Linked DNA regions of Homo sapiens. The protein of the gene in region 1 interacts with the protein of each later gene in a biochemical or structural test. Each region holds a gene or a part of one and is shown in the gene's direction. Other genes may lie near its edges.

Region 1 (5,310 bases):
ACCAATTGGAAGACAATAAAAACAACAGCTCCTGGCCAGGCGCAGTGGCTCACGCCTGTAATGGCAGCACTCTGAGAGGCTGAGGCGGGCAGATTGCTTGCGTCCAGGAGTTCAAGACCAGCCTGGGCAACATAGCAAAACCCCGTTTCTATTAAAAATACAAAAAATTAGCCAGGTGTGGTGGCATGCACCTGTAATCCCAGCTACTCGGGAGGCTGAGGTGGGAGAATCACCTGAGCCTGGGAGGTCAAGGCTGCAGTGAGGTGAGATTGTGCCACCGCACTCTAGCCTGGGCGATAGAGCAAGACCCTGTCTCAAAAACAAACAAAAAACAGTCCCTGGCACTCTGGGCCAGGCCTGGCAGGGCAGTTGGCAGGGCTGGTCTTTCTCTGGCACTTCATCTCACCCTCCCTCCCTTCCTCTTCTTGCAGATTGAAACCCACAAGCTGACCTTCCGCGAGAACGCCAAAGCCAAGACAGACCACGGGGCGGAGATCGTGTACAAGTCGCCAGTGGTGTCTGGGGACACGTCTCCACGGCATCTCAGCAATGTCTCCTCCACCGGCAGCATCGACATGGTAGACTCGCCCCAGCTCGCCACGCTAGCTGACGAGGTGTCTGCCTCCCTGGCCAAGCAGGGTTTGTGATCAGGCCCCTGGGGCGGTCAATAATTGTGGAGAGGAGAGAATGAGAGAGTGTGGAAAAAAAAAGAATAATGACCCGGCCCCCGCCCTCTGCCCCCAGCTGCTCCTCGCAGTTCGGTTAATTGGTTAATCACTTAACCTGCTTTTGTCACTCGGCTTTGGCTCGGGACTTCAAAATCAGTGATGGGAGTAAGAGCAAATTTCATCTTTCCAAATTGATGGGTGGGCTAGTAATAAAATATTTAAAAAAAAACATTCAAAAACATGGCCACATCCAACATTTCCTCAGGCAATTCCTTTTGATTCTTTTTTCTTCCCCCTCCATGTAGAAGAGGGAGAAGGAGAGGCTCTGAAAGCTGCTTCTGGGGGATTTCAAGGGACTGGGGGTGCCAACCACCTCTGGCCCTGTTGTGGGGGTGTCACAGAGGCAGTGGCAGCAACAAAGGATTTGAAACTTGGTGTGTTCGTGGAGCCACAGGCAGACGATGTCAACCTTGTGTGAGTGTGACGGGGGTTGGGGTGGGGCGGGAGGCCACGGGGGAGGCCGAGGCAGGGGCTGGGCAGAGGGGAGAGGAAGCACAAGAAGTGGGAGTGGGAGAGGAAGCCACGTGCTGGAGAGTAGACATCCCCCTCCTTGCCGCTGGGAGAGCCAAGGCCTATGCCACCTGCAGCGTCTGAGCGGCCGCCTGTCCTTGGTGGCCGGGGGTGGGGGCCTGCTGTGGGTCAGTGTGCCACCCTCTGCAGGGCAGCCTGTGGGAGAAGGGACAGCGGGTAAAAAGAGAAGGCAAGCTGGCAGGAGGGTGGCACTTCGTGGATGACCTCCTTAGAAAAGACTGACCTTGATGTCTTGAGAGCGCTGGCCTCTTCCTCCCTCCCTGCAGGGTAGGGGGCCTGAGTTGAGGGGCTTCCCTCTGCTCCACAGAAACCCTGTTTTATTGAGTTCTGAAGGTTGGAACTGCTGCCATGATTTTGGCCACTTTGCAGACCTGGGACTTTAGGGCTAACCAGTTCTCTTTGTAAGGACTTGTGCCTCTTGGGAGACGTCCACCCGTTTCCAAGCCTGGGCCACTGGCATCTCTGGAGTGTGTGGGGGTCTGGGAGGCAGGTCCCGAGCCCCCTGTCCTTCCCACGGCCACTGCAGTCACCCCGTCTGCGCCGCTGTGCTGTTGTCTGCCGTGAGAGCCCAATCACTGCCTATACCCCTCATCACACGTCACAATGTCCCGAATTCCCAGCCTCACCACCCCTTCTCAGTAATGACCCTGGTTGGTTGCAGGAGGTACCTACTCCATACTGAGGGTGAAATTAAGGGAAGGCAAAGTCCAGGCACAAGAGTGGGACCCCAGCCTCTCACTCTCAGTTCCACTCATCCAACTGGGACCCTCACCACGAATCTCATGATCTGATTCGGTTCCCTGTCTCCTCCTCCCGTCACAGATGTGAGCCAGGGCACTGCTCAGCTGTGACCCTAGGTGTTTCTGCCTTGTTGACATGGAGAGAGCCCTTTCCCCTGAGAAGGCCTGGCCCCTTCCTGTGCTGAGCCCACAGCAGCAGGCTGGGTGTCTTGGTTGTCAGTGGTGGCACCAGGATGGAAGGGCAAGGCACCCAGGGCAGGCCCACAGTCCCGCTGTCCCCCACTTGCACCCTAGCTTGTAGCTGCCAACCTCCCAGACAGCCCAGCCCGCTGCTCAGCTCCACATGCATAGTATCAGCCCTCCACACCCGACAAAGGGGAACACACCCCCTTGGAAATGGTTCTTTTCCCCCAGTCCCAGCTGGAAGCCATGCTGTCTGTTCTGCTGGAGCAGCTGAACATATACATAGATGTTGCCCTGCCCTCCCCATCTGCACCCTGTTGAGTTGTAGTTGGATTTGTCTGTTTATGCTTGGATTCACCAGAGTGACTATGATAGTGAAAAGAAAAAAAAAAAAAAAAAAGGACGCATGTATCTTGAAATGCTTGTAAAGAGGTTTCTAACCCACCCTCACGAGGTGTCTCTCACCCCCACACTGGGACTCGTGTGGCCTGTGTGGTGCCACCCTGCTGGGGCCTCCCAAGTTTTGAAAGGCTTTCCTCAGCACCTGGGACCCAACAGAGACCAGCTTCTAGCAGCTAAGGAGGCCGTTCAGCTGTGACGAAGGCCTGAAGCACAGGATTAGGACTGAAGCGATGATGTCCCCTTCCCTACTTCCCCTTGGGGCTCCCTGTGTCAGGGCACAGACTAGGTCTTGTGGCTGGTCTGGCTTGCGGCGCGAGGATGGTTCTCTCTGGTCATAGCCCGAAGTCTCATGGCAGTCCCAAAGGAGGCTTACAACTCCTGCATCACAAGAAAAAGGAAGCCACTGCCAGCTGGGGGGATCTGCAGCTCCCAGAAGCTCCGTGAGCCTCAGCCACCCCTCAGACTGGGTTCCTCTCCAAGCTCGCCCTCTGGAGGGGCAGCGCAGCCTCCCACCAAGGGCCCTGCGACCACAGCAGGGATTGGGATGAATTGCCTGTCCTGGATCTGCTCTAGAGGCCCAAGCTGCCTGCCTGAGGAAGGATGACTTGACAAGTCAGGAGACACTGTTCCCAAAGCCTTGACCAGAGCACCTCAGCCCGCTGACCTTGCACAAACTCCATCTGCTGCCATGAGAAAAGGGAAGCCGCCTTTGCAAAACATTGCTGCCTAAAGAAACTCAGCAGCCTCAGGCCCAATTCTGCCACTTCTGGTTTGGGTACAGTTAAAGGCAACCCTGAGGGACTTGGCAGTAGAAATCCAGGGCCTCCCCTGGGGCTGGCAGCTTCGTGTGCAGCTAGAGCTTTACCTGAAAGGAAGTCTCTGGGCCCAGAACTCTCCACCAAGAGCCTCCCTGCCGTTCGCTGAGTCCCAGCAATTCTCCTAAGTTGAAGGGATCTGAGAAGGAGAAGGAAATGTGGGGTAGATTTGGTGGTGGTTAGAGATATGCCCCCCTCATTACTGCCAACAGTTTCGGCTGCATTTCTTCACGCACCTCGGTTCCTCTTCCTGAAGTTCTTGTGCCCTGCTCTTCAGCACCATGGGCCTTCTTATACGGAAGGCTCTGGGATCTCCCCCTTGTGGGGCAGGCTCTTGGGGCCAGCCTAAGATCATGGTTTAGGGTGATCAGTGCTGGCAGATAAATTGAAAAGGCACGCTGGCTTGTGATCTTAAATGAGGACAATCCCCCCAGGGCTGGGCACTCCTCCCCTCCCCTCACTTCTCCCACCTGCAGAGCCAGTGTCCTTGGGTGGGCTAGATAGGATATACTGTATGCCGGCTCCTTCAAGCTGCTGACTCACTTTATCAATAGTTCCATTTAAATTGACTTCAGTGGTGAGACTGTATCCTGTTTGCTATTGCTTGTTGTGCTATGGGGGGAGGGGGGAGGAATGTGTAAGATAGTTAACATGGGCAAAGGGAGATCTTGGGGTGCAGCACTTAAACTGCCTCGTAACCCTTTTCATGATTTCAACCACATTTGCTAGAGGGAGGGAGCAGCCACGGAGTTAGAGGCCCTTGGGGTTTCTCTTTTCCACTGACAGGCTTTCCCAGGCAGCTGGCTAGTTCATTCCCTCCCCAGCCAGGTGCAGGCGTAGGAATATGGACATCTGGTTGCTTTGGCCTGCTGCCCTCTTTCAGGGGTCCTAAGCCCACAATCATGCCTCCCTAAGACCTTGGCATCCTTCCCTCTAAGCCGTTGGCACCTCTGTGCCACCTCTCACACTGGCTCCAGACACACAGCCTGTGCTTTTGGAGCTGAGATCACTCGCTTCACCCTCCTCATCTTTGTTCTCCAAGTAAAGCCACGAGGTCGGGGCGAGGGCAGAGGTGATCACCTGCGTGTCCCATCTACAGACCTGCAGCTTCATAAAACTTCTGATTTCTCTTCAGCTTTGAAAAGGGTTACCCTGGGCACTGGCCTAGAGCCTCACCTCCTAATAGACTTAGCCCCATGAGTTTGCCATGTTGAGCAGGACTATTTCTGGCACTTGCAAGTCCCATGATTTCTTCGGTAATTCTGAGGGTGGGGGGAGGGACATGAAATCATCTTAGCTTAGCTTTCTGTCTGTGAATGTCTATATAGTGTATTGTGTGTTTTAACAAATGATTTACACTGACTGTTGCTGTAAAAGTGAATTTGGAAATAAAGTTATTACTCTGATTAAATAAGGTCTCCATTCATGGATTCCAAGGACAAGAAAGTCATATAGAATGTCTATTTTTTAAGTTCTTTCCCACGCACCCTTAGATAATTTAGCTCAGAACAGGAAATGATAGTATTAATAAAAGCTGGACATCAGGATTAACAGCTCTCTCTGGGGCCCTGAAGGTGAGAGTTCTCAGACTTGCTCATTTGCAGTTGCTTCTTTGTGATGCTGGCAAACCATCCTAGTCCCATTCAAAGGGCAATACAAAGCCTTGTGGCTGACCTCACGATGCAGCACTCAGTTTGCAAGACCGGCACCAGTGTATGCAAACCTGAGAAGGTTGGGGATGAGGATATGGGATCTTTCATCCCTGGAAATTTAGTCCAGAGGCCTGGGGCTGGAGCAGAACACCAAGCCAATCAGCTTAATGAATGGCTTAGATTCCTGCTAGGTTTGCAGAGCTGCCTTCTTTCCTTTGGTACCTTATTATAGATTGAGGAGTATTTCTGCTAAACCAAG
Region 2 (7,691 bases), on another chromosome or scaffold:
TTAACATCACCTACGCTCCTTTCTGAGTTCAGGCTGGGGTGTTGTATGGAATGTCCTTCCCACATGAGATTTTTCCAGGACCATCTCCTGCTGGCTCATGGCAAGCTGTGGACCCAAAATGCCCTAAATCCATTGGCTGTGTTCTAAAGATTGTGTATATAAAAATATGTAACTCTTTATGTATGGACTTGATATGAGGCATCAGAAGAAAGAGGTAAACAGTGAACCAGGTATGCCAAGTACAGACAGGTTAGCCCTGGGGCCACTTTAGCAGTGGTGTCCCACTCTAAGAGTGAAGGGGTTTTTTTGCTTGTTTTTTTCATTTTGTTTTGTTTTGAGACAGGGTCTCACTCTGTTACAGCAGTGCAATTAGAGCTCACTGCAGCTTTGACCTCCCAGGCTCAAGCAATCTTCCCATCTCAGCCTCCCAAGTAGATGAGACGGCAGGTGTACACCACCACACCTGGCATTTATTTTTTTTGTAGAGATGGGGTCTTGCTGTGCTGTCCAGGTTGGTCTCAAACTCCTGGGCTCAAGCAGTCCTCTGGCCTCAGCCTCCCAAAGCACGGGGATTACAGGCACGAGCTATCATGCCTAGCCTCAAAGTGAAGTTTTATAAGAATCATTCCTGCAAGTCCCAGAAGACCCACCAGAAACAAGAAGGGTGTCTGTGGGTGGATGGAAGCAGAAGGCCTCCCTCTGGTCCTGGTCTTGATTCCTGAACACTACCCTGGGGCAATATGCCTTCAAAAGGGAGGAAAAACAGCAGACAGGAGGCAGAGGAAGAAAAACGAGAATTAAAGTAGCAAAAAAAGGTACAAGTTTAAAATAAGTTTTTATTGTTTTTTCTAATAACATAATAAATGCCCAATGTAAAAAGTTGAGGAAATTAAGAAAAAGATAAAAAATAAAATAACAATGACCTAAAATATGATTACTTGGAGGAAATGATCATTAAAATTTTTGTGTATGTATTGCTTTCTATGAAAATTTACACATATAAATAAGTTTAAAAATAATGGAAATATATGTGTATTAATACATATATATAAACATACATATGTACACATACAAACACAATACTAATTTATTAGCTCTTCTTAATTTTAATTTGTTGTGAACATCTTTCCACACAAATAAATAAATAAATGGCAATGTTATAATTTTATGGCTATATAGTATTCTATTATAGATATAACATAATTTACACACCAAATCCCTTATCAATGAACTTTTCTCAGTGTTTCACTATTATAAACAATGTTCCAATTATTCCCATGATATGTGCGCTTGTGTTTGTGTATTTGCAAATTTGTTCCATTCTTTCCCAGAAGTAAAATTGCTAAGTCAAATGTATACATTTTTTTAAAAGGCTTTTCACAAATGCTATTAAACTGCCTTCCAGCAATGTTGTACCAATTAAAAATTCCACTAGTAGGGTATGGATATCCATTTTCCTGTTGAACCTCCTATCACATTTACTGGCCATTTTGGGTTTTGTTTCTGTTGCACATATTTTTCAGTTCGAACGTTCATCTTTATTTTCTTGTTGATTTGTAAAAACTCTACATTGAGGGTTTTTACCCTTGCCATATGTGTTGTTGTTGAGTTGACATTTAAGAGAAGATTAAAACTAAAATAAAATAATAAGACAAGAAAATGTTTTAGCTAATAAAAATAAGAAAAAAAAGTTACTTTAAAAGCAAGATATAAGATTCAGATGAGACAAGTTCAAGAAAGCCAGAATAGAAAGAGGAAACTTTAAGGTAAAACAAGTAGAAAAATACAAAATATATAAACAATATCAATAAAATCAAAGAGAAGTTCTAGAACAATGACTACATTCTAATTTGTATAATAGAAGCTACTCATAAGAAAACAAAACTGGTGGTTGTGGAAGACAATATTACTTACCTTGGGTAGGCCAGGGACAGCGTCTCAGATCTTTAATCAAGTTCTTGGTAGAGATTGGCAGAAAAGATCAAAACGGGAATAGTATACAAATCTTTTGCAGTGCTCTATTCACTTGTTCAGACCATTAGCAAATCCTCCTGAGGAGTCCAAATCCATTTAAAGCTACATTTAAGACGGGCAACAGATAAAAAAGTAGGTAAGCAAAGAATTACAAAAAACAGGATGAAGTCTTGATGGGAGCAGGTTAATCTGTCATTTTAATCACATTGTCTCTTTGTCCACTAATTAGATCAAGAAGCTATTACAGTTGCAGACACTAAGAAGTGACTTCTCGTGAAGAAACAGAGAGAGAGGAGGAGAGAGGGAGAGAGAGAGAGAGAGAGAGAGAGAGGACTTATCCCACCTACTCCAGATTTCCAGATTTAGCGTAAGATAGATTGAACTAAACATGAGATTTCAAGGAGATATATAGCCTAAGAGTGTTTTTTTCTTGAGAGCATATGACACTTAGTCTGTCCGGAATAGTTTGAGAACAGTTTTACTATTTTTCCCATTTTACGTATGAGGACACTAAGGTTCAAAAAGGATAAGCGACTTGCTTCATCAAAGCGCTCCCAACAGTGAACTGTGGAGCTGGAATCAGAAACAACTCCAGACCAGTGCTGCCCGATAGAGATATAACTTGAGCCACATAGGTTATTTAAAATTTTCTAGTAGACGCATTTAAAAAATAAAAGAAACAATTTAATTAACTCTAATAATGTTTTATTTAGCACAGTACATTTAGACTATCATTTTAACATGTAATCAATATTAAAATGGGATACTTTACATTCCATTTTTCATGCTTGATCTGAAATATCTAATACATCTTTTACATTTACAGCACATCCTAATTTGCAGTAGCCAAATTTCCAATACTGAAGTACATTTCAAGTACTTAACAGTCATGTGGCTAGTGGCTACCTCCTCGGACAGCCCAATTCTAGAACTATGGTCCTCAAGGTGCTGTCTCCAGATTGGCTGTATCAACATCACCTGGGAACTTGCTAAATGTGCAAATTCTTGGGCACCATCCCAAACCCCCTAAATCAGAACCTCAGGTGGTTAAACACAGCAATTCATGTTTAAGCAAGCCCCTTCAGTTATTTCTGATACATGTCAAAGTTTGAGAACCATTGCTCTACCCAACTGCCTCTGCATCCCAATCCAAATAAACCCAGAGCAGCCATTGCGGACTAGCCCTGAGGACGAAGAGCCTCTGCTCTTGAGATAAGCAATTCTTGGCTAAATGAAGCTGGCTTTCTCTTGTATGGAAATATCCTAGTCCTAGCTATGGTTCCATTTCTTGGGATTATGGAATTTCCAGACACAATTTAAACATGGTTTAATTTGTCATTTTGTTTAAGGAAAAGGAAAAAAATCCAGTAACCTCTGTATACTGTCACCTTGAGTTAGTTACTTAACTTTTCTTTTCCTCAGTTTCCTCCTCCATAGGATGCAGATCATTTAATAAATGTTAGCAACTTTTCTTAAAAAGTAGTGTGTACAAAAAGAAAAAAGTCAGCAAAAGGGACAGATTTTTTTAAACTACAGTAAAAACAAGTAGTGGGCCGGAAAGGCAATATTATAGATTTTGAGCACAGAAGCAGAAGCTGATTCACTTATAATTTCTTAGAACATTAGATTTGCTGAGGGGGAAGGTAGGGTTCTTGCCAAAATCATTAAGGAGAGCGATTCTGAGTATGCCTTAAAGCAGAACTTTCAGTAAACAGGAATTACCTATAAAGAAAATCAGGAAGCCAAAGTGTTTCTTTTTATGAAGTTACATCCTGCCATAGAAAAGCTGGATAGGAAATAAAGACCGATGCACTCCCAACTGTATACTAAACCGGCAATTATTTCATCAAGGGAAATATGAGCAAAAGCTCAGATTCAGTGAAGGGGAAAAAAACATGAGAAGTTTGAATGTTATGAGAAACCAAAGACAACCAATGACTACAATTAAACGAGGTTTTTTGGGGGTGGGGCGGGGAATGTACGAACAAATCTCTGTCATTTCAGGTTCCTTAGTCGCCGCTTGGCCCCTCCCCCTATTTCAGTAATACTTCCTCCAGACTTTTGCTAGAAAAAAAATATAAATGAGTGTCCGCAGAAATAGGGGACTGATAAAATGATCCTAATCTCCTTCTCCTCCTCATTGTTATTTGTTGTGCGTTTCCACGTTTCAGGACAGGATTCTACTTTGCTCCGTACTCTTTTCAGTTTGATCAAAGAAAACGCTGCTATCACCGCCCAATTTTCCATTTCATCCTCTCACCCTCAAATGAAAAGACACCAGAAAGGCAAGATAGCCCTGTCTCGAGGCAGTTTCCCATGGTTTTGGGGGAATGGCAGGTGCCAATCTGCAGCAGCAGCTGCAACCTTCCGCAAAGCGGAAACTGCAGTTCACACTCTCCGCTCTTTCTCCCGCCCTACTCCGCCACCTCACAACTCCACACAATCCTTAAAAACACACAGACCTCCTCCTCCAACCTCGCATTTTCTTGCACACCCTGCACCGCACGCACCCTGGGATGCCCGCTGCCACAGTAACGCTCAACCCACTCGGCGGCCCCACCTACTGCCGTCCCGCCCACGCCCCAGGCGCCAATGGTTGCGGCTCGCAGCTCCCAAGGGGCTCTTTGATAGGGCAGCCGGGCCTGTCACTCTCGAGGCGCGCCCCGCCCCCTCCTCGCTCCCCTCCGGAGCTGGAGGGGCAGAGCATCAGCAAGAGTAGCAGCGAGCAGCCGCGCTGGTGGCGGCGGCGCGTCGTTGCAGTTGCGCCATCTGTCAGGAGCGGAGCCGGCGAGGAGGGGGCTGCCGCGGGCGAGGAGGAGGGGTCGCCGCGAGCCGAAGGCCTTCGAGACCCGCCCGCCGCCCGGCGGCGAGAGTAGAGGCGAGGTTGTTGTGCGAGCGGCGCGTCCTCTCCCGCCCGGGCGCGCCGCGCTTCTCCCAGCGCACCGAGGACCGCCCGGGCGCACACAAAGCCGCCGCCCGCGCCGCACCGCCCGGCGGCCGCCGCCCGCGCCAGGGAGGGATTCGGCCGCCGGGCCGGGGACACCCCGGCGCCGCCCCCTCGGTGCTCTCGGAAGGCCCACCGGCTCCCGGGCCCGCCGGGGACCCCCCGGAGCCGCCTCGGCCGCGCCGGAGGAGGGCGGGGAGAGGACCATGTGAGTGGGCTCCGGAGCCTCAGCGCCGCGCAGGTAAGCAGGCGGCGGGGATGCGTCGCGGGAGGCCTCGGGGATGCTGCGGAGAAGCCCGGCCGCCGGCGCCCCCGCGCACGCCGCCCCCGCCGCAGGGCCCGGTGCTGCGGTCCCTTGGCCGCCAGGGCGCTCCGCGGGGCTGCCGGGGAGTCGGTGCTTGGGGTCTTCCCGCGGTTGCACCGGAGGACACCCCTGCGGGGTGCGGCCCCGAGGCAGCGCGGGGATGGGGACCCCATTTCCTCGCCCGCAAGCGGGCGCCGGGTGAAAATGGGAATTGGCTTGGGGGCGAGGCTGGCCCAGACTCCGCCCCCGCCCTCCTTTTGGGGCCCCCCGCGGGGACTGGGGCTGTGTGTGTTGTTTTAATGTCAGGGATGATGTAATCACTTAATAATTGATGCCCCGTGCTGCTTCCCTCCCCACCCAACCCCTGCCCCACTCCTCCACCTCTCGGCCTCCTCCCTCGGCGGCGGTCGCCTTCTCCAACCCATCCTCCTGCCTATTTCTGGCACCTCCCTTGCACTTCCCCCATCCTCCCCTTCACTCTTCCTGTGCCACCACCCACCCACCCTTCCCCTTTCCCCTGTGCTGGAGCCTTCCCTCCTCTTCCTCTGTCCCCCACCCCTCTGCTCCCTCCAGCTCTTTTCTCCTTCCTTTCCGGCTCCCTCGCTGGATTTCCTCTCTACTTCCCTAGATCCATGGCTGTTTTTGTTTGGGCTCCTCCCCTCTGTTATCTCTGCGGCCACAGGCGGAGGGGACTGGGCCAGAAGGAGGCCACCGAGCTTGGGCCCAGCAGAGATGTGCTGGGACTCACTGGGAAGAGGGATAATAAAATCACCCTTCTTGCCCCTCCTTCCCCCAATAAATCACACAGACTCGCCGGGTGTGTGAGTGTGAGTGTGACACAAAGAGCCCTTTCAGTGCATAGAGAGGAGACACACAAAGTACCCTAGGATAGGCACGATGCTTCTTGTCTCTCTTCCCTGGGGCTTCCCTTTCTTTCCCATGAAGCAGTTGATCTCTCTGAGTCTTTCCTGCCACATTTACCAAAAAATAAAAGAACCCCCGGATGCCGGGTGGCAGGTGTCGGCATTTTGCTGTGTTCAGAGACCGGTAGTGTTGACTGGCAGCTGCAGTGTTTCTTAGATTTAAGGGAACAGTTATCCCAGCAGTCTTAAGAGTTGCTTTACTTTTAAGGTAGCCTCCCCATCCCCTCGTTCTTTCCCCTGTCCTTTTGGGAACAAGTACTAAGAGCTGGGGTAGAGTAGATTGGTGTGGGGGTCACAAGAATTTTGTTTCTGAATCAGAATTAAATTGTTATTTGATAAGAGGGAGGCAGCCTGAATGGCTTCTTCTCTCAAGTCTAAGAGGGCACTGTACTGAAGTCTTTTGAAATGAAATCCTGTCTGCCCAGTGATGTTGTTTTACCCTTTTATTGAAGTAAATACCTGGGGACGTGGATAAAACGGTCTAGAGTTAGCATTTGGAAGACCACTGCAGACTGCCTCTTGCCTGCTTCAAGGTAGTCTTGGGACGCCTACTTCCTTTCTCACCACCCAAGCAACTGCAATACTTTCCACCCTATGTACTGTCTTCTTCCCCAGTCCCTGCTCCATGGGTACCCTGTATTCAGATGAAGGGACTCACAGACTTTTGGAGGAAGTGGTTTAACTATCTGAGGCTTTGAGGCCACTTGGCTATGAACTGGGGCTGTAGAGAATCTTGACTGAAGTCTAAACCATTTGATGTTCCCTTTAAGGAAGAAATGTTAATGTAAATCTGGGGGCTTAATGTTCCGTTTTGTAAGCCAGTGACTATTACATGCTTAATCGATATTGTCAAAACTTAAGTTGAACCTGTTCTTTCCTAAAAGTATGGCTCCTCGACTATTTTTATAAGTAACAGAACTGTAGGTTTAGTCTTCAGTAATTTTATTAGAAAAGAGTTATGATTCATTAAATATTTACTTACACACTTTTTAAGAACATTCATCGTGGAACTTTTTACGATAAAAAAAGCAATAGGGTTAATGAGTGTACTGTAAAAACAAAGGGTCGTTTGTTTGATGCCAGACCCAGGAAGGAAAGCCAGAGCACATAAACTCACACTCTGTTGACCAAGTTTAAGAGACTTAATGATAAGGTTGAATGTGAGCAAATGCACACTCTGCTTTCTCCTGGGTCTGGAATCTCCAACCCCATCTGACTTGCTCGAAGTCCTTTTTAACCTTTGGGGCCCAGCTCAAATGTCATCTCCTCTGTGAAGCCGTTTCCATCTTCTCCTTTCCAAACAAATCATCATGTTTTGGTTTCAAACTTTGGCAGCAGGCATTATGTTTCGCATGAGTCTATTTCCACCATTAATTGGTCAGCACATTGATAAAAGGAACCTTATCTTACTTATCTTGTTTCCTACCAAGTTTTATCTTAGCGGGTATTCTGTTTCATTTAACATTAAACAAATGTGAGTTAGGTCTTTGGTATGTGCTCAACACCTGTATCAATTAGGCTAATGTTAGCAGGTGTAACAAATAGG
Region 3 (7,029 bases), on another chromosome or scaffold:
GGTAATACAGATACTAACTAAGGATGGAGTAACTCTTGTAAAATATATAGATGAAAATGTTTAATTCCGATTACCATATAGGTCAATTTAGAATTTTAAAAGTTGGAGTTTAGTGTTAATTATGTGTTTTTGACAGCTTTGACTTTAAAAGCATTTAAAAGAAAGGGGAGTCTTTAAGCATTTGTTAGGATGCTAGCATTCTAAGGAACCCCTGTTGAAAACAGACATAAGAAATTGTAGTCCTTGCTCTCAAAAGCTTATCCTTTAGTTGTAGAGGGAGGCTATGGGGAAAAAAAAATTAAAACAATAGCGTGATGACTGCAAGATTGTAAAATACAAATTGAATCATTTGTTCAGAGTGGCAAAGAGTAAAGGGGTGAGACTGATGGTTGGGAGAGGAAAGACTTCCTGCGGACAAGGTGTATTAGGACTGATGTTAAAGGAGGTGGTAACTTGAACTGGTAGAAAAGCATGAAAGGTCTAGGTGGAAGGAGTGTACCAAGGAACAATGATGGTGAGTTTTGCATGAGAGACAATAATCAAGTTGACAAATCTGAATTAAAGGGGCCTAAATAAGAACATAAGAACAGATGGAATTTGAGAAATAAGAGAAAGTTAGCTGATGGAGGGCAGAGGGGTTCTGTACAAGTTTGATTGAGATTCAGAAGAGATCTGGATTTATTGTTGGTTGCTGAATAAGACGTAAGATGATTTTTGCAGTTGAATTAGTGAATTATAGTAGAGAGATGCTAGAGCCTTTTTAGGGAGCTAGTAGGGTATGTTGTGAATCATGAGGGAATAAAGTAAAATGTGAAAGTGGGGTGAAAGGAACAGGTTTGAGAGACAGTGTGAATGAAGAACTGGCAGAACTTCATACTGGACTGAAGTGGAATATTTGTGAAGGAGTCAAGAGTTAAAAATAAATTCTGATGTTACTGGCCTGGAAGACTTGACTGCTAAGTTATATTGTTAATTGTAATGGGAAAATTGAGAAAGTGCTGAGGTGAGAGGGTAGGTGAGTTCACTTTCTTAAAATTTAATATACAATAAGTTCCCTTGAAATTCAGACAGCAGTTAGTTACTGGCAATGATATTTGACTTCCTAGTCTATTAATTGCACAGTTTCTAATTTTTCTACACCTAAAGATGTTGGATTTATATTCGGGAGCAGTAAACTAAGGGCTTTTATTTAAATGCTTCTCATCAAAGTCCTAATTTTTTTTTTTTTTATATACAGCTTCAAAAGCCTCACACTTGAAACCTGGTTATAATAGTTTCATGATGGCTTATTTCAGATCAATGAAAATACTTTTGGGACTAAACTGTGACTGTAACATTTTAGATATGTAGCCATTAATCTTTGATATATGCTTAAAACTTGTTTTTTATAAATAATGATTATTACTATTATTTTAAATGCAAAATTTATCTAAGAATAAAGTATTGAGAGCCTTCACTTTGTGAAGACTCCAGAAGAAATTAAAAGTTGATTTTATAACAAGTATTTTTTGCCCTTTTTGTTGAGTTTAGGCATTAATCCCAAATTTAAATCAGTATATTTGAAATACTACTTTTTACTTGCTATAGTGAAACCAATGTTTCATTTTTGTTCACTTCCAAGTTTACATGTAATTAAATAAATGTTTATAAAGTTTTTCTTTAGAATCACATGATATTTTACTCCATAGGGAAAGTAAGGGACTGTTTGTGGCACTTTTGGTTAAAATATTAGTAATCCTTTTGGTATATACAATTGGAGAAAATTTAGCTAGTTGTTTAGGTTTAATACTTAAATATAAGATTTAGAAATATGAAAATAAGTCTGTATCACTTAAGTTGTTTCCTCATATAAAACTTTTTTAGATCAAAATTTCTATTAGCAAAGAGAGAATAATAGTAGCTGCATATTATTCTGCAGTATTACGTCGTATGGTGATTAAAGCCAAAGAGTAGGTAGCAACTTAGAGTTTCCGTATTCCCCTGGGAAGTTTAATCTCTTTATGACATCTAAAAATTAGGTTATTAGAGTTTAGTCCATTTCTTGATAATCCTGTGTTAATGTGGAAAAGAGTTCATGTGTGAGACTGAAAACCAGAACTTTATTTTCAGTCATTTCCCAACCCGACTTCCCCAGAGTTGTTAAAACGTTTAAGATATTTAAGAATTGCATGCTTTCTTGTTGCATGCACCTGTAGAATGCTAATTGTGAAGTGACAGTAAGTCACAGGCAAAAGGAAAAACTTCAAGGGAACCCAGTGATTCACAAATCACCTTATGGCTGATTGGGAACTGCATTTAGAAAATGAGGTGACATCTTCTCATTTCACTGGCAAAGTTCAGCTGAAAATCAGTACTTGCACGCTTTACTGTGTAGCCCTTATATTAGAATTGAGTTGCAGGTGTGAGATAATATTTTGGAGAAACAGCAAGGCTGGGAAAGTCAGAGATTTTATTCCAGCAGCAGAGTCTAAAGAGTGGGAGAGCTCTATTTGTGTGTGCACTTTATGCATAGAGAAGGCTGTGAAACATGCATATGTTGACCCTATTGTCACAGTTCCATACTTTTAAATAAGACCCATGAAGTTGAGACAGGGTTGGAGATGACAGACAGGATGTGAGATTGTGGTGCTTCTTGTGATGCTCCACCCTATAATGGAGAATGGAGGGGCAGAACGCTTGTGTGGGTGAGACAAGAGTGTGTGTTGGTACTAACAGGACCAACCGGGTTCCCCGGATATTGTTCTTCTAAGAACATAATCACCATAAGTAAATTAATTTGTTGGAATGTTTATCATTTTCTAGCTGATTTTTTGTGTGTGTGTGTGGGGTGGTGGTGGTGGAAGGGGAGTTTTCCCCGATTTCAAGAATAAAAGCATTTTCATTGTTCAGAAGAAGAGCATTTTCATTAAAGCGGAGGTTGCACTCTTGGCATTTTATCTTGAGTTATACAAATCATCCTTGGTTATACAAATCAAATTGCTTTTGAAATTTGTTGAGTGTAATGTATAAATGTATATTTATATAAAAACCTATGTGAATAGAACAGCAAGGAAAAACTGAGTAGAGTTAAAGAAGTTTGTTTTCCCTGAGATTTTCTGCCTTTAAATTTATATAAAAAAGGAATATTCCATTTTACGTTATTGAGTTTTCTATTTTTTTAAATGAGCTAATACTCAGTACATAATGGACATTTTTAGTAAATTATTCCAATATACTTGTGTCTGTAATGCATTTGATGTGGTATAAGATTTAGAAACACAATTTAGTTCGGCTGGCACGGTGGCTCACGCCTGTAATCCCAGCACTTTGGGAGGCCGAGGCGGGTGGATCACGAGGTCAGGAGATCAAGACCATCCTGGCCAACGTGGGGAAACCCCGTCTCTACTAAAAATACAAAAATTAGCGGGGGCGTGGTGGTGTGCGTCTGTAGTCCCAGCTACTCAGGAGGCTGAGGCAGGAGAATCGTTTGAACCCATGAGGCGGAGATTGCAGTGAGCTGAGATCGTGCCACTGCACTCCAGCCTGGGCGACAGAGAGAGACTCTGTCTCAAAAAAAAAACAAAACAAAAGACAATTTAGTCGATTTGGGTTCTTAGTTTATAATCCCCCTTACCATTTTTGCTTATATTTTGGGAAGAGAGGTCAACTTCCAAACAATGTGCAGGTTCCAATTTTATAAGTGATTAAATCTTATATTTTTTGTATTGAATAGTTTTCTTAGCATGTTTGGTTTGATCACTTGAAGTAATGATGTATTTGTCTTGAAACTAGTTTTGTCAAACCAACTTTTTATTTCCAGAGTACCATGGTTAACAACAGCACAAAGCCAAGTCCTTAACGTGTTCCCTTAATAACATGGTCTAAGGTTAATTTCTTGATTCTTATTTCAAATCAATTCAGTAATAAAAAGTACACTTTTTTTTTTTTTGAGATGGAGTCTCGCACTGTTTCCTGGGCTGGAGTGCCATGGCGTGATCTGGGCTTACTGCAACCTCTGCCACCCAGGTTCAAGCGATTTTCCTGCCTCAGCCTCCCAAGTAGTTGGGATTACAGGTGCCTGCCACCACACCTGGCTAATTTTTTGTATTTTTAGTAGAGACGGAGTTTCACTGTGTTGGCCAGGCTGGTCTCAAAATCCTGACCTTGTGATCTTCCCACCTCGGCCTCCCAAAGTGCTGGGATTACAGGCGTGAACCACCACATGTGGCCGAACTAAATTGTGTTTCTAATTTAGTTTTCCTGAAGAATAACAGCTATGCATCAATGTGGAATTGTGTTATTTGGAATCTCACCTTATTGGAATTGGCTGGTAATTGACAGTAAACCAGAAGTGCTCCTGAGCAGCTAATATCTGCAGACAAATGGAGTGTAAACTTTGCTCATAGGTTAGTTTTCAGGCTTTTATTAACGGTTCCTTGTTATTATTTAACATATAGTTGTAATTCATTGAGTTGTCTGGGTTTTTTTGAAATCACAGATCAGGGGAATGGATAGGTACTGATTAAGCATTATGCTACTGAAAAGAATGGATGATTAGGGGAAACAAGCATATTGGGATTACTTAGTGTATGTAGGGTATGTAGGTTCATATAGTTCCAGGGTAAATCATTCTGATAATTGTTGAAAATGTTCACCCAGAGAAATTTTTTTTTTTTTTTGGAGACAGGGTCTCGCTGTGTTGCCTATGCCTAGCCTGGAGTGCAGTGGCACAGTCTTGGCTCACTGCAGCCTCTGCCTCCTGGGCTCGGGTGATCTTTTAACCTCAACCTCTGGAGTAACTGGGACTATAGGCATGCGCCAACATGCCTGGCTAGTTTTTGTAGTTTTTATAGAGAGGGGGTTTCGCCATCTTGCCCAGGCTGGTCTTGAACTCCTGGAATCAAGCAATCCTGCCTCAGCCTCCCACAGTGCTGGGATTACAGTCATGAGCCACTGCACCCATCTGAGAATATTAATTCTCTTTTAAAGAGGCAGGAGGCAGAAAAATCTCTTGTGGAAACCTGGGCTTCTGCATAAACTACATAAAATATCTGTAATTTGTTGATCACTGAAGTGATGAAGAGAACTGGGTCACCTCTGTCTGATTCACCATCTTCTAGTTGGATTTCAGCAGTATGGATAAAGGTACTAAAGTCTTTAGTGTGCTAGCCCAGGGTATTGTTTCCAACTCTTTCTTCCATTGTCCATCTACATTTATTAACTCAGCAGCAGAGTTTTATCTGATTTAAGATTTGTTGTCTTACTATTTCTGTTTTTTTTTTTTTCCTCCTTAGTATATATGGAATTGCTGCTTGGATTTTGGCTGGCTTGTACCTTTTGTTTGTGGACTGCTTAGAAGGCACTGCATGGAGTCATTTAAGCTTTCTTATGAATTATGAATAGCTATGTAGAGAGGAACTTTTCTAGATACATTTATGGCCTATGAGAATTGAAAAGCTGGGTATCTTAATTGTTAGGCTGAAGAAAAAGGGTGATAGTGGCAAAGTAGTTTTTCTTTTGGAGGTCTGAGAAATTCTTAGGGGCTTAATTGGCTAATATAACTAGAAAGGTTGGGTGATTTAGGTTTTTTTCCAAGGAAAGGTATCTTATTTAAATGCAACACTGTCTGCTTCCTGTTATTTTATAAAATTAGTTAATACTTTTTTTTTTTTCTCAAGACGGAATGTCACTGTGTCGCCCAGGCTGGGGTGCAGTGGCACAATCTTGGCTCACTGCAACCGCCACCTCGAGGCCTGGTTCAAGGAATTCCCCTGCCTCAGCCTCCTGAGTAGCTGGGATTACAGGCATATGCCACCATTCCCCGCTAATTTTTTTGTATTTGTAGTAGAGATGGGGTTTCACCATGTTGGCCAGACTAGTCCTGAACTCCTGACCTCAGGCAATCTGCTGGCCTCAGCCTCGCAAAGTACAGCAAAATCAGTTAATATTTTTAATTGATTAACACTTTCTTCATGACCTGTGTTGAAGTTATTGAGTTGAGTCAATTGAATTTCTAATGCTAGATTTTGAGTATGTGGTGTGAGCACCTGAAGAGTTGGAGGTACTGGAATTATGTCTGACATCAGACTGATAGTATTTGCAGGGACATTTGCCCTAGTGGAATTCAGGGTTTTCACATTCTATACATTACTTAAATTATGAAGGAAAGGGGGAAGCTTTGAGTTGGTAGACTTTTAATAATAAGATATAATTACATGTATATAGAAGAGCAACGTACTGTATATCATATTCTCATAATATATGGTAATAACGGCAGTAATTATTGAGTGCGGTGTGCCAGATAATTGCATGTTTTATTTACCTATTTTGCTTTAAATTTTAAAAAATGTAATTTACTCACATGGTTCAAAATTTTAAAGATATTCAGTGAAGTCTTCTCTCCTGCTCTGCAACAACCAGTTCTCTTTCCTGGAGACCACTGGCATTACAATTTCTTATGTGTCCTTTCATAGGTATTCTGAATCTTTACGGATTAATGATTTCTATAGTAGACTTGCATTTTGTGTATACATACATAAATTAACAATAGCTTTAGCAGAAGTGTTAGAATTAAAACAAATTTAAATCAGTAACTCTAGAAAATTGCTATTTTTTAACCTATTAAATTAGTAAATACTTATTTCTCTAAATATAAGTTAGTTGGAGAATAAGTGCAAAGATGACAGAGCTCCTCTCGTGGCAATTAGAGGTAAAATGTTAATAGTCTTAACCAATGAACAATTAATAGCACATTTAAAATAGATGTTTATTTCATAATAAAAAGACAGGATAATTTTTTAACTTTCTATTTTTCTAACATCTTAGATGAGAAAACCTGTTCTCTTGAGAGATCAGAGGCGCAGAGTGCGTCAGTGTCAATGAAGCCTGTGCCTTTTACTTCTTTAAGAGCGTACGGTTTCATTCTGCTCCTAAATCAAGCACCCCTTAGTTGTTGAATAAAAATTACTTTTATAAAGGAATATATGATTTAAAGAAATCAAATAGTGCAGAAGGGCTTATGATGGAAAGTAATCTTCTGTCCTCCAGTCC

What was found.
Region 2: of the proteins of MAPT (region 1) and FYN, one has a biochemical effect on the other in vitro, tested with the Homo sapiens proteins (10 studies listed by BioGRID and IntAct, with this or other methods).
Region 3: of the proteins of MAPT (region 1) and GSK3B, one has a biochemical effect on the other in vitro, tested with the Homo sapiens proteins (21 studies listed by BioGRID and IntAct, with this or other methods).

Annotation. Positions count from the first base shown.
Region 1 is NC_000017.11:46,023,525-46,028,834, forward strand, and holds the end of MAPT (microtubule-associated protein tau), read left to right. Parts: intron 1-431; coding exon 432-647; 3' UTR 648-1,592; coding exon of another isoform or gene 1,593-1,664; 3' UTR 1,665-4,810; downstream 4,811-5,310. UniProt on the Homo sapiens protein: Promotes microtubule assembly and stability, and might be involved in the establishment and maintenance of neuronal polarity.
Region 2 is NC_000006.12:111,870,436-111,878,126, reverse strand, and holds the start of FYN (tyrosine-protein kinase Fyn), read left to right. Parts: upstream 1-4,674; 5' UTR 4,675-5,159; intron 5,160-7,691. UniProt on the Homo sapiens protein: Non-receptor tyrosine-protein kinase that plays a role in many biological processes including regulation of cell growth and survival, cell adhesion, integrin-mediated signaling, cytoskeletal remodeling, cell motility, immune response and axon guidance.
Region 3 is NC_000003.12:120,084,431-120,091,459, reverse strand, and holds part of GSK3B (glycogen synthase kinase-3 beta), read left to right. Parts: intron 1-6,811; exon of another isoform or gene 6,812-6,896; intron 6,897-7,029. UniProt on the Homo sapiens protein: Constitutively active protein kinase that acts as a negative regulator in the hormonal control of glucose homeostasis, Wnt signaling and regulation of transcription factors and microtubules, by phosphorylating and inactivating glycogen synthase (GYS1 or GYS2), EIF2B, CTNNB1/beta-catenin, APC, AXIN1, DPYSL2/CRMP2, JUN, NFATC1/NFATC, MAPT/TAU and MACF1.